Regions from separate parts of the Homo sapiens genome. Here regions 2 and 3 are each linked to region 1. Evidence: fine-mapped expression QTL. A gene starts in region 1. Each other region holds a variant in brackets. All regions are shown on one strand. Distances are between the middles of the regions.

Region 1 (4,315 bases):
GGGTCTTGCTCTTTCATTCAGGCTGGAGTGCAGTGGCACAATTACAGTTCACTGCAACCTCGACCTCCTAGGCTCAAGTAATCCCCTCATCTCAGCCTATTCCGACTAGCTGGGACACCCAGCTAATTTTAATTTTTTGTAGAGACACGGTATGTGTTATCCAGCCTGGTCTTGAACTCCTGAGCTCAAGCAATCTTCCCACCCCGGCCTCCCAAAGTGTTGAGATTACAGGTGTGAGCCACCGCGCCTGGCCCCCAGCTGCCTTTAAAAACCCTTACTTGCCAGCCATCAAGGAGGAGCTACCTGATTCTCCTTGCTTGGTACCCTACAGATAAACACCCTTCTTTCTCCCTCTGCAAACCTTGGTGTGGGTATTTGGCCTTACTGTGTCAGGTGAAGGGACCCTAGTTCAGTTAGATAACATAAATATTTGCAGTGTATGTGTACTACCCAAGGACATGACTTCATTATTCAATTTGACAAATGCGTTCTGTTACACAAATACAGAAAGGATTAATAAAGCTTTACTAGTCCATCTTTCCCATTATCCCTGCATGTATCCTTGCATTAGTGCAAATAATTGAGAACAAACCATTGGTGAGGGGATGGAAAGACTGCTCTGACTCACCAGCTCCCTTTAAGTATTTCCTTAAGTAAATATCATAAGTAACACAAATAAATATTTCATACAATGTAGAGAAAAAAGCAAAAATAACAGTTCTCTGAGCATCAAACTAATAGGCTTAGTATTACTATCATTTTTTTGAAACGGAGTGTCGCTCTTGTCGCCCAGGCAAGATCTCGGCTCACTGCAACCTCCGCCTCCCAGGTTCAAGAGATTCTCCTGTCTCAGCCTCCTGAGTAGCTGGGATTACAGGCATCTGCCACCATGCCTGGCTAATTTTTTGTATTTTCAGTAGAGACGGGGTTTTGCCAAGTTGGGCAGACTAGTCTCCATCTCCTGACCTCAGGTGAACTGCCTGCCTCGACCTCCTGAAGTGCTGGGGTTATAGGCGTGAGCCACGGCACCCGGCCTAGGCTTAGTTTTTTGTAGGTACTAGAGTATTTGTTTCTTTAGCCAGAATCCACTGATATTTTAGTCTTCTGGTTCTCAATCTTGGCTTGCTTTTGCAACTACCTCTTGAACTTTAAAAAATTCTGCTCCAGCCTGGGCAACAGAAGGAGACTGTCTCAAAAAATATATGTCAATAAGTAAATATCCTGATGCCTGGATCCCACCATGGGACATTCTGATGTAACTGGCCTGCAATGGTGTCTGGGCATGGGGATTTTTAAAAGCCCCAGTGACTAATATGCAGCAGAGTTTGAGAACCACTGGTTTAAAGGACTTTGTCCTACTCTGACAGCGTCTAGCACAGTGCCTGGCAGAGACTGATGCTCAGAATGAACAAACTAAGATTCTATTTGTCAAGGAGGAGAGCATTGTGTTACTCACAAATGCAAACAAACCACAAGCAAGGGATAAGTCAGGCCCTGGGCAAAGACAATGGTAAAGCAATTCCTGCCAAGTAAGCGTGTGAGGGTGACACCCACTGAATGCAAGCTGTTGTTACCTTTTTCCCTTTATTTTTATGTATTTATTTTTTGTTGAGACAGGGTCTCACTGTCCTTCAGTCTGGAGTGCAGTGGCCCTATCCTGGCTCACTGAAGCCTCGACCTCCTGGGCACATGCAATTCTCCCGCCTCAGCCTCCTGAGTAGCTAGGACTATAGGTGCGTGCCACCATGCTTGGCTAATTTTTTAAATTTTTGTACAGAGGGGTGGGGGGTCCTAATTATGTTGCTCAGGCTGGTCTCGAACTCCTGGGCTCAAGTGATCTTCCTGACTCGGCCTCCAAAAGTGCTGGGATTACAGGTGTGAGCCACTGCACCAGGTCAAGTTTCTATCTTGACTCTAACTAGAAAAGGTGTCATCCTTGAAATGCAGGTACTGTTCAGCCAAATTCCAAAGTCCTCTGAAGATCCAAGTTCTCTAAGAAGTTCAGAGGTGCCAGGCTGTGTCTTGTTTGTGCAAATGAAACAGAGGATGACAAGGTCGGGTGGGCATTTCGAGCTCTGCCCCAAGTCTGGTCGGCTTGAGAGTCAACCTAGGAGCCTCTCTCGGCTCCAAATGGCAATGTGGCAGCCCTTCCCGAGTAGGGAAAAAGGAGCGTGTAGGGGGCACCACGGCAAGCTGGTTGGGTCTGCTCCACCCATGAGGATGGAGTGCAGCCTCCACCGGGAACCAGGGGCGCGAGTCGCTGCTCAGTGGCCTGGGCCTGCATGTGGCGCGGCGGGAGCTGCTGCCTAGGGCCGCGCAGCGACGGGGGGTGAGGACTACATGTCCCGACGTGCCTCGGGCAGGGCGGGGCGGTGCCGGAGCCGGGCCTGGAGGCCGGCCGGGGCCAGGCGTGCGCAGTGGTTCTTGGGAGTGGCGAAGCGGGTCCTGCCCCGCTGTCAGCTGCGGCCCCCGGCGCCGGGCGGGGGTGGCCGCGACCATTGGCGGAGAGGCGAAAGGGGCGGGGCCGCCGCCAGCCGCTGCGGGCAAGGCTGAACAGGCGGAGGTGGGCAGCCGGCCAGGGAAGCACGGTCCAGGCGGCTACATTCGGCCCGGCCATGGCAGCGGCGCCCCTGAAAGTGTGCATCGTGGGCTCGGGGAACTGGTGAGCGGCGGCGGGCTGGAGGCCGGGGCTCCGCTTCCAGGAAGCGCCTCTCCCGGGCGGTGAGGGCTGCGCGCCCCATGCTGCGGCGTGGGCACCGGGCACTGCGCGCAGGGAGGCGGGGTGGGCGACCTCGTTGCTGGGCTGGGCACCGTGCGCCCGAGGAGGCCGCACCGGGGCACTCGCTCGGGAGGCGCTGGGCTCGCGTGCGTGCGGGGGACAGCGCGGAGAGAGGGCACCCCGAGCACGCGGGCACCTGTCTGCGCCCCCGTTACTGAGCGCACAGAAGCCACCTGCTTGCCACGCCTGGGTGTTTTGCACAATATCCTAAGGGCGTATTCCGTTCTCCACGGCGGATCTCCTGGGTCAAGGACTTGGTGGAGGCTCGAGCATTCTTACTGCAGTTTCGGTGTTGAGGAAACCGAGGCGGAGAGGGCTAAAGGGCTCTTGCTGCCCAGGTCACGGGCGGGGCATGCTCTGCCCTTCAAGGTGCCCGTCTCGCCCCCGCTTCTGATAGGTCCACTATCTTAGGCGCGTCGTATCAGGAAGAAAATCCAAGTTTCAACAGGCCGCTCTCCCTGAGGCGTTGAGAATTCTCCCTTGCCGAGATGTTTGCGAAGCTTTGCGTCTCTTTGGGGCCTTATTTGACTTTAACATTTTATAGAGCACATTAGAAATGTCAGTTCTTCTAGTACCCTTAATCAAACGTACACTGTGGGATTCTCTGGTGTGTTTGGGTGAATGTAGAGGTGGGGGTGTGAAGGGGGAAGGAAGCAAAGTGTAGCATCTGGTGTTTCCAAGCCTTTTTTCATTGCTGTACACTCTGCCACATTGGAGGGACTGGTGTACAATAGTTAAGAGTGATGATGTCCTTTCAGTGCTTCTGTTTACCGGTTTTTCTGTGGCGTGACAGGCATCAGAAGTGCTGCAGCAGCTGGTCCTAGGTAGTTGGTCTTAGTTTTACTCTTTCAAGACTTGGCCCAGAAAGTACTTATTGAAGGAAACCTTACCTGGTTCTTCACTTTTCCATCCCAGCAAGGCCAGTGGCCTCTCTCTGTGTCCCTATTGCTGGCCTGCATCACTGCATTATAAGGAGTTATTTGATTATCTGTCTCCCAACTTTTGAGAATGGCATCTACCCTAGTGCCTGGCATATGCTAAGTCAATACTAAGACTCTGTTGCAGTGGTGCGATCTTGGCTCACTGCAACCTCCACCTCCTGGATTCAAGCGATTCTTGTGCCTCATCCACTTGAGTAGCTGGGATTACAGGTGTGAGCCACCGCTCCCTGCCTAAAAACTAATTTTTAAAACCATAATGATATTTGATTGAATAATACATTCACATTGTTTAACAACCAGGGCTGGGCGCAGTAGCTTATGCCTGTAATCCCAGCACTTTGGGAGGCTGAGGTGGGCCCAGGAGTTTGAGACTAGCCTGGGCAACACGGCAAAACCCCGCCTCTACAAAAAATAAAATATTAGTCGGGCATGGTGGCTCACGCTTGTAATCCCAGCACTTTGGGAGGCTGAGGCAGGGGGATCACGAGGTCAGGAGATTGAGACCACGGTGAAACCCCGTCTCTACTGAAAATACAAAAAATTAGCCAGGTGTGGTGGCAGGCGCCTGTAGTCCCGGCTACTTGGGATGCTAAGG
Region 2 (4,329 bases), 63 kb after region 1:
AGGCTTAGGTGACCTTAGGATCACTCAAGTAGACCCTTCACTCCCTGCGAGAAATTAGGATGAATAACTACCTGTGGCATTGTTGGTTCTGAACTTTTACAGTTCAGGCCTGCTGTGAATCTTTGATGAAGCTTTAAGGTGACACTGTTGTACAAGATGTCAGCTTTGCTGAAACGCACATTACCTGGAATAAGTGCTTTAATTGTAGAATTAGAATGGGATTTACTGTACTGTTTTAAATGAGATTGGCTTCAGAATCCATTACAGTTACCTTACATAGCACTTGATACGTGTTAAATGAACATATGAATGTAATTTATATATTCCTAGAATTTAAGTTACTTTGTGAGATTTGGGCCTGTCCCTCAATGCCAGTTTAGGATTTCTTTTTTTCTATACCTTGAAATGATTATAAAATAGATTTTCATGGGAATTTTAAAAACTCTATCCAAAACATTTTTGGAGCATTTTAAAGCCCCATACACAGAAGTATACGAAAGCACACAAAACACTCCAAGTTTCAGCAGTTTTAGCGCCACCATTAACCCACTTTGCTTGTCTCATGAAAAATCTTTGTTAAAGTTTGTACACAGGTAACAAAAAGTTACTTTAAAAGATATATAAAGGGCTGTAAGCTAATTGTGGTGTCTAGTAAGTAGCATAATGAGATGTGAGGAGTTGGAACTTTGCGTGTTTTGCGTATTTTCATCTGCATTCAGCTTCTTACTCTGGGTTTGTACTCGAGTGTTATTTCTTTACAAATGCCCTTGTAATTACCACTCTGAAGTCTGCTGACTGTGTCTCTTGAACATACTTAGGATATTCTGCACATTATGGAAAAAGGTAAATTTTAGAAGTTTCTGCTCTACTAACTGTAGATATTTATGACTCTGCGAGTTATCTATTTTTATAACCACCTGTGGTCCATTGTTCATTTTAATTCACATTTCTTATGAAGTATGGTAACAGGGAGGGAGACACCTAGATTAGCAGCTCAATTTGTACTACTTCAGCCAATCTGTGAATGTAAAAACTACACTGTTGCCTTGCTAGGATCCACCCTCCTATAATATGGAACAAATATCTGAATGAAATCCACCCTAGGAGACGGAGTCAAACTAAACTTGTGGTTTTTCATTTAACTTTTGACTACAGCATGGCCCCATGGCATCCACACCAAGAGGGTGTTGTGATGAGGTGCCGGTGTGCAAAGGGAACTTTAGTTTTTCCACTGGTTCTTATCTGCTAGCCTTTTACATACATGTGTACTATATTTGTTTATAGACTGTAGGTGGATATATAATTTAAAAGCTTGATTTAATAAACATTTAACCCCCTAAACTTGCACCGTGGATCCTGTTTTTCTTTTTATCAGCTTAGGTAATCATTTTATTTGTCGGCTTTTTCTTTTTTCCTGAACTGTGTTTCATTACCAATATCAAAAACAGTTTTCAACAGAAGGGCTTCATCTCTAATCCCAGGCCTTAAATGCATCTGTTTTTATTGTTTACTGATATTTTTATACAATTGCAGTTTAGGATGGAGACCTTCTAGTGAATTTGAAATCCCCTTCTCCCCACTCCATGTATACCTTTAAAAGCTGGGAAAATATAACCAGTGCTGATCTCGTAAAAATGTAAGGGAGCTCTCCCTCTACCTCTACCTCTACCTCTCTACCTCTCTACCTCTCTACCTCTCTACCTCTCTACCTCTCTACCTCTACCTCTACCTCTCCGTCTCCCTCTCTTTCCACGGTCTCCCTCTGATGCTGAGCCGAAGCTGGACTGTACTGCTGCCATCTCGGCTCACTGCAACCTCCCTGCCTGATTCTCCTGCCTCAGCCTGCCGAGTGCCTGCGATTGCAGGCGCGCGCCGCCACGCCTCACTGGTTTTCGTATTTTTTTGGTGTAGACGGGGATTCGCTGTGTTGGCTGGGCTGGTCTCCAGCTCCTAACCGCGAGTGATCCGCCAGCCTCGGCCTCCCGAGATGCCAGGATTGCAGACGGAGTCTGGTTCACTCAGTGCTCAATGGTGCCCAGGCTGGAGTGCAGTGGCGTGATCTCGGCTCGCTACAACCTCCACCTCCCAGCCGCCTGCCTTGGCCTTCCAAAGTGCCAAGAGTGCAGCCTCTGCCCGGCCGCCACCCCATCTGGGAAGTGAGGAGCGTCTCTGCCTGGCCGCCCATCGTCTGGGACGTGAGGAGCCCCTCTGCCTGGCTGCCCCGTCTGGAAAGTGAGGAGCATCTCTGCCCGGCCGCCATCCCATCTAGGCAGTGAGGAGCGCCTCTTCCCGGCCGCCATCCCATCTAGGAAGTGAGGAGCGTCTCTGCCCGGCCGCCCGTCGTCTGAGATGTGGGGAGCGCCTCTGCCCCGCCGCCCCATCTGGGAGGTGAGGAGACCCTCCGCCTGGCAACCGCCCCGTCTGAGAAGTGAGGAGCCCCTCCGCCCGGCAGCCACCCCGTCTGGGAAGTGAGGAGCGTCTCCGCCCGGCAGCCACCCCGTCCGGGAAGGAGGTGGGGGTCAGCCCTTGCCAGGCCAGCCGCCCCGTCCGGGAAGG[G/C]GGGGGGGTCAGCCCCCGGCCCGGCCAGCCACCCCGTCCGGGAGGGAGGTGGGGGGGTCAGCCCCCCGCCCGGCCAGCTGCCCCGTCCGGGAGGTGAGGGGTGCCTCTGCCTGGCCACCCCTACTGGGAAGTGAGGAGCCCCTCTGCCCGGCCACCACCCCGTCTGGGAGGTGTACCCAACAGCTCATTGAGAATGGGCCATGATGACAATGGCGGTTTTGTGGAATGGAAATGGGGGAAAGGTGGGGAAAAGATTGAGAAATCGGATGGTTGCCGTGTCTGTGTAGAAAGAAGTAGACATGGGAGACTTTTCATTTTGTTCTCTACTAAGAAAAATTCTTCTGCCTTGGGATCCTGTTGATCTGTGACCTTACCCCCAACCCTGTGCTCTCTGAAACATGTGCTGTGTCCACTCAGGGTTAAATGGATTAAGGGCGGTGCAAGATGTGCTTTGTTGAACAGATGCTTGAGGGCAGCATGCTCGTTAAGAGTCATCACCACTCCTTAATCTCAAGTGCCCAGTGACACAGACACTGCGGAGGGCCGCAGGGTCCTCTGCCTAGGAAAACCAGAGACCTTTGTTCACTTGTTTATCTGCTGACCTTCCCTCCACTATTGTCCTGTGACCCTGCCAAATCCCCCTCTGCGAGAAACACCCAAGAATGATCAATAAAAAAAAAAAAAAATGTAAGGGAAATTCCTAGAATCCTGAAACAAATAGGGGACTGATTGCCAGAGTCGAAAGAATTGAGTTGTGAAGCTTATGCTACACGAGAGCCCACCAAAGGCTATGTTGTCAGGGAAAAAAATGAAATAAGAAAACCCAGGTAGAGGTACAAACAAAGAAGCTGGGCTCCATGTGAGAAAAATGTTTTGTTTTGTTTGCTACAGAGTCTTGCTCTGTCACCCAGTGGTGGCACACACCTGTGGTCCCAGCTACTCGGGGCTGAGGTGGGAGGATCACCTGAGCCCAGGACGGTTGAGGCTGCAGTGAGCAGAGATCATGCCACTGCACTCCAGCCTGGGAGATAGAGCAGTGAGACACTGTCTTGAAAAGATAAATAAAATAGTTGAAAAATAATTCATTATGAGTGAAAACCAACAGATTTTTAAAAACAGAGTTAGAACCGTAGGATTTCAGATAATTTGAGTAATACGATAGATGCTTTTTTAAAATCATTTGAAATCCTTTATAGAGATGGGGGTCTTACTATGTTGCCCAGACTCGACTGCAGTGGTGTGATCATAGCTCACTGCAGCCTCCAACTCCTGGGCCCAAGCAGTCCTCCTGCCTCAGCCTCCAAGTAGCTAAGACTCCAGGGGCATGGTACCACACCCAGCTTTTTTTTTAAAGTAAAGATAGGGTCTTGCTATGTTGCCCAGTCTGGTCTCAAACTCCTGGCCTCAAGCAATCCTCCTGTCTTGGCCTCCCAAAGCCCTGGTACTACAAGCATGAGCCTGGCCAGATGCTTTGAAAGATATTTTTAAAAATAAAGGCATAAAAGAAGGATTAAAAAATAAATTGTATGGGAGGAAAAAAAAAAAGAACCCAGCCAGGCAGATTTGAAAAGGAACCTATTCAAACATTTAGGAATGAATATAATCATTTGAAGTTTAAAAATAGGCAGATGGAAAGATTAAAGACTAGATTTGACAGAGCTGCAGATGGAATTGGCAAACTGGAAAATAGATCTGAGGATATTAAAGTAGCAAAGAAAATATTTGAGAATTTAAAGATTAAGTGGAAGATAGAATAGGACTTGAACATACATC
Region 3 (4,000 bases), 40 kb after region 1:
TGAGCACTATGTGCAGTGTGGGGTCCTGGATTAGGCAGGGAGGGTTGCTGTGGAAGACAATGCAGAGGTGATTGGTGAGGTTTGAATGTGGATTATATGTTAGATAATAATATTATGTAAACATTACATTTTCTGTATTTGATCATTGCAGTGTGGTTATCCAGACATCCTTTGTTGATGCATAGGGACTATTTTAAATTGCGGTAGGTTCAGGAATCGTGGCCCACTTGAATCTTCTGTGGAGGGAAAAGATAGGGCAGCTTCAGGCCTCAAAATCCTGTCATGGTGAACTACAGTGCCCTCTTGTGGTAAGGTCTCCTTTCGTTCTTGGGGCATACCACAGACTCTGAGGCTTTTAATCCAGTCATTCCACAAATATTTTTCAAACCCTCTTATGTATCAGGCATGGTGCCAAATGTCTAGAATACATAAGCTCCTTATGGAACTTGTAAGCACACAAACACATATGGAATCACAAACTAAAATAAGGGTTTTGAAGGAGTTTTATTACATAGGTTAATTGCCTCTAAAACTTGGTGTGACAGAGAAAGGGGATTTTCCTGTCTTTGGTTTACATTGAGTTTTGGGCAACCTTCCCACATGGCTGTCCGGCATTAGCTGTTCTGTACAGATGCCCTGAGTCCCTGCTTGCCATGTCACTGTTTATTACTGGGGTTTGTTGTTGTTGTTGTTGTTGTTTTTGAGATGGAGTCTCACGCTGTTGCCCAGGCTGGAGTGCAGTGGCGTGATCTCGGCTCACAGCAACCTCCGCCCCCTGGGCTCAAATGATTCTAATGCCTCAGCCTCCTGAGTAGCTGGGAACACACACACACACACACACACACACACACACCACCACGCCAGGCTAATTTTTGAATTTTTTGTAGAGATGGGATTTCGCCATGCTGACCAGGCTGGTCTCGAACTCCTGACCTCAAGTAATCCACTTACCTGAGCCTCCCAAAGTGCTGGGATTACAGGCATGAGCCACCGCGCTGGCTTATGACTGGTATTATATTAATAATAAAATTCGCGGGCCGGGTGCGGTGGCTCATGCCTTTAATCCCAGCACTTGGGAAGGCCAAGGCAGGTGGATTGCTGGAGGTCAGGAGTTCGAGACCAGCCTGGCCAACATGGCGAAACCCCATCTTTACTAAAAATACAAAACTTAGCCGAGTATGGTGGCGCATGCCTATAGTTGCAGCTACTCAGGAGGCTGAGGCGGGAGAATCGCTTGAGCTTGGGAGGTGGAGGTTGCAGTGAGCTGAGATAGTGCCACTGCACTCTAGCCTGGGCAACACAGCAACTCTGTCTCATAAATAAATAAATAAAGTTACTACCTATTATCCATGATTTAAGGTAATAAATTTTAAAAGGTACCTTTGAGAAAATATGAGATTGCTATAAATCAAGCCCACCTCTTGGATGGGCATTGCGTTATTTGCAGCCACAAAGGAACCCATAGACCCTACCTTGTATCTATGGCAAGCCAAGAGTGTGCCTTCCCCTGCCCATTCCTCAGTTTGTTCACCAGCAACCCAAGTTTCCAGCTGCAGATGGCTGGATTAAAGTGACTTGAGGGAGGGGCTGGTCTGCAATGTTCAGGAGCATGCTTCATGTTGGAGGCACTGAGCAGTGGGAGGAGACACGATGAGGCTGTAATATGATGTAGGGGCCAGGGGCTGGTTTACCCAACCCAGATGATGCAACAGTGTTGCACAGAGTCACCTAGACAGCCTGGTGGACTGTTTAAAAAGGAAGA[G/T]AACAGTTTGCACAAACTGACATAGTTCTAACATTTGGAAAAGGGGAACTCAGCTAAATGAAAGAACAGTAATGCTACAGAGTAGACTGTGTTTCTAAGTATTGGGTGTAGATATTGTGTTTTATTATGAAACTTTTCAGAAAAGTAGAGTAGTATCACGAACCTCACATGCCCGTCACCCATCTTTAGAAATGATTAACTCCTGGCCAGTCTCATTTCATCCACTCCCCACCCTCTCTCAACCCTCAGATGGCCTGGATTATTTTGACATTGTGTCACTTCTTGGTGTAGTTTTACTTGTTGACAATCATGCTTTTTTCTTTTTTTTTTTTTTTTTTTTTGAGACAGAGTCTCGCTCTGTTGCCCAGGATGGAGTGCAGTGGTGAGATCTCAGCTCACTACAGCCTCCACCTCCTGGGTTCAAGCGATGCTCCTGCCTCAACCTCCTGAGTAGCTGGGACCACAGGTACGTGCCACCACGCCCAGCTAATTTTTTGTATTTTTAGTAGAGATGGGGTTTCACCATGTTAGCCAGGATGGCTTCAATCTCTTGACCTCGTGATCTGCCCGCCTCAGCCTCCCAAAGTGCTGGGATTACAGGTGTGAGTCATCGTGTCTGGCCAAAAAAAACTTTAGATTCACATTCGGTCAGTTAAAAATGTATGTCAAATTGTAAATGATCACCTCGATTGGAAACGGGATATTTTTACTTTATTTCTGCTCCTATGTGTTTTCTAAATATCCTATCATGAACATGTTACTTTTATAGTAAGTAGAAACTTATTTTAAAGTGTATTAGGTGTGAAAATTAAGATTAGAGGCTGTTATTAATATCCTTGTTGTCTAACCTTTCAACAGGCAGCAAAGTAATGGAGAACGGCCTTCTCTTCAAAGAACTTCTGCAGACTCCAAATTTTCGAATTACCGTGGTTGATGATGCAGACACTGTTGAACTCTGTGGTGCGCTTAAGGTAAAGTCAGCCTCAGGGGAGGAGTTCATCAAGCAAGGCAAATGTTAGCATCATTGAGTCTAATCCTCAAGAATGGGCTCTGTGTTCTGTGCACCCACATCAGCGAAGAATAGTGAATTGAGAGTCTTGTTTATAACTTCCTGTTTTGCTGCAGCCTTTCCCGGGTGGTTCAGTTCCTCTCTTACTCGTGGCTTGCTTTAACTTGTAAATATGGGGGAATTGTGATGTTTTGGTCTTTGGGAAGTTGGCAGCATTGATATTTGGAAAGCATGGGAGTTCCTTGATGACAGGGTTTCACCCAGGAGCAAATGATTCTATTCATTCATGTTTTTCTCCCACACTTCATCCTGAGCAGGAAAAGGAACTTGTTTCCTCTGAATTATGCTACTCTACTAGTTTGGCTGGTTGTTCTTATTAAGGGAAAAAATAATCTGCTGCTGGTAGAGGTTTTTCTAAGAATAGTTTTGTCTTTGCCCTCAAGAGAGAGAAGATGTGATTAAAGAAATGCACTCCACTGGCCAGTGGCTTGCTGGATTTTTGTAAGTGGAACTGTACAGTATGCACTCTTTTGTGTCCGGCTTCTTTGATTGGAGGTGTATTTTTGTTTGTTTTAATGTAAATTTTAAGAGGTACTTCATACAGAAAAGTACAAAAATCATAAGTATGTAGTTTATGTTATCTTTTTTTCCCCTCTTTTGAGGTAAAGGGAGGTCTCCACACCTGGGCTCCTGACTTGTTGGCTGCTGTCTTTTAAAGCCTTAGGCACTGTCCCTCTCTCTGCCGTGACTTGGGGGAACAACCAACAGGGAACAGCAGCAGCTACCTGCTCATTCCCCCTCACTATCTAAGTTGCCTTTATTTCACTATCATCTACAAAAAAGAGTGGGGGGAATAGGGGAAATAAAAAGTTCTCAATGTGAATGCCCCTTTTGAGCCACTTCTGAGTCATCTCTTTTGCAGCAAAAAGCCACCCTTCAGAAATTTGAGCATCTAGGGAAGAGGTTAGGCAATCCACCAGTCACCTGTCTTTATTGGATGGGAGTTGCAAAGGTGGAAAGAATGCCTGTCTATGCTTTCTCATAAATTGTATATGTTTTTTTCTAGTCAGAAGTTAAAACCACTCTCTAGAATTAACATTGTGTATATATGTGTGGTCATGATATATAATGAGCATTTAAAAAAATTAAAGCCAATTAAAGGCCTGGGCTCCTAGGGAGCACACATGCATATTTCTAAGCGCCTGTGTGGGGCATTCTTTGCATTAGCA

Which allele goes with the higher level. Alleles are on the strand shown, and positions count from the first base shown. SD is a standard deviation of normalised expression in the study named. Not every link is listed here.
For the expression in prefrontal cortex of the gene that starts at base 2,524 in region 1, allele G in region 2 goes with a lower level than allele C (moderate effect, 0.46 SD a copy in CommonMind).

What was found. PIP is the estimated chance that this variant, and not a neighbour inherited with it, causes the effect.
Region 2: its variant is the best candidate, but not a certain one, in a credible set for the expression of GPD1L in prefrontal cortex (CommonMind, PIP 0.89).
Region 3: its variant is the best candidate, but not a certain one, in a credible set for the expression of GPD1L in monocytes (TOPMed, PIP 0.58).

Annotation. Positions count from the first base shown.
Region 1 is chr3:32,104,097-32,108,411 of GRCh38, forward strand. GPD1L (glycerol-3-phosphate dehydrogenase 1 like) reads left to right here and starts at 2,524. Exons shown (of 8, transcript NM_015141.4): 1 at 2,524-2,662. The coding sequence starts at 2,616. RefSeq lists silencers at 2,257-2,666, 2,787-2,926.
Region 2 is chr3:32,167,369-32,171,697 of GRCh38, forward strand. GPD1L (glycerol-3-phosphate dehydrogenase 1 like) reads left to right here. Exons shown (of 8, transcript NM_015141.4): 8 at 1-1,341. Among named protein-coding and RNA genes, the nearest start is that of GPD1L, 63 kb to the left of the region's middle. RefSeq lists an enhancer at 1,975-2,632. The variant G/C (reference allele first, on the strand shown) is at 2,557.
Region 3 is chr3:32,144,002-32,148,001 of GRCh38, forward strand. It overlaps GPD1L (glycerol-3-phosphate dehydrogenase 1 like), which reads left to right. Exons shown (of 8, transcript NM_015141.4): 5 at 2,621-2,733. Among named protein-coding and RNA genes, the nearest start is that of GPD1L, 39 kb to the left of the region's middle. RefSeq lists an enhancer at 3,782-4,000. The variant G/T (reference allele first, on the strand shown) is at 1,763.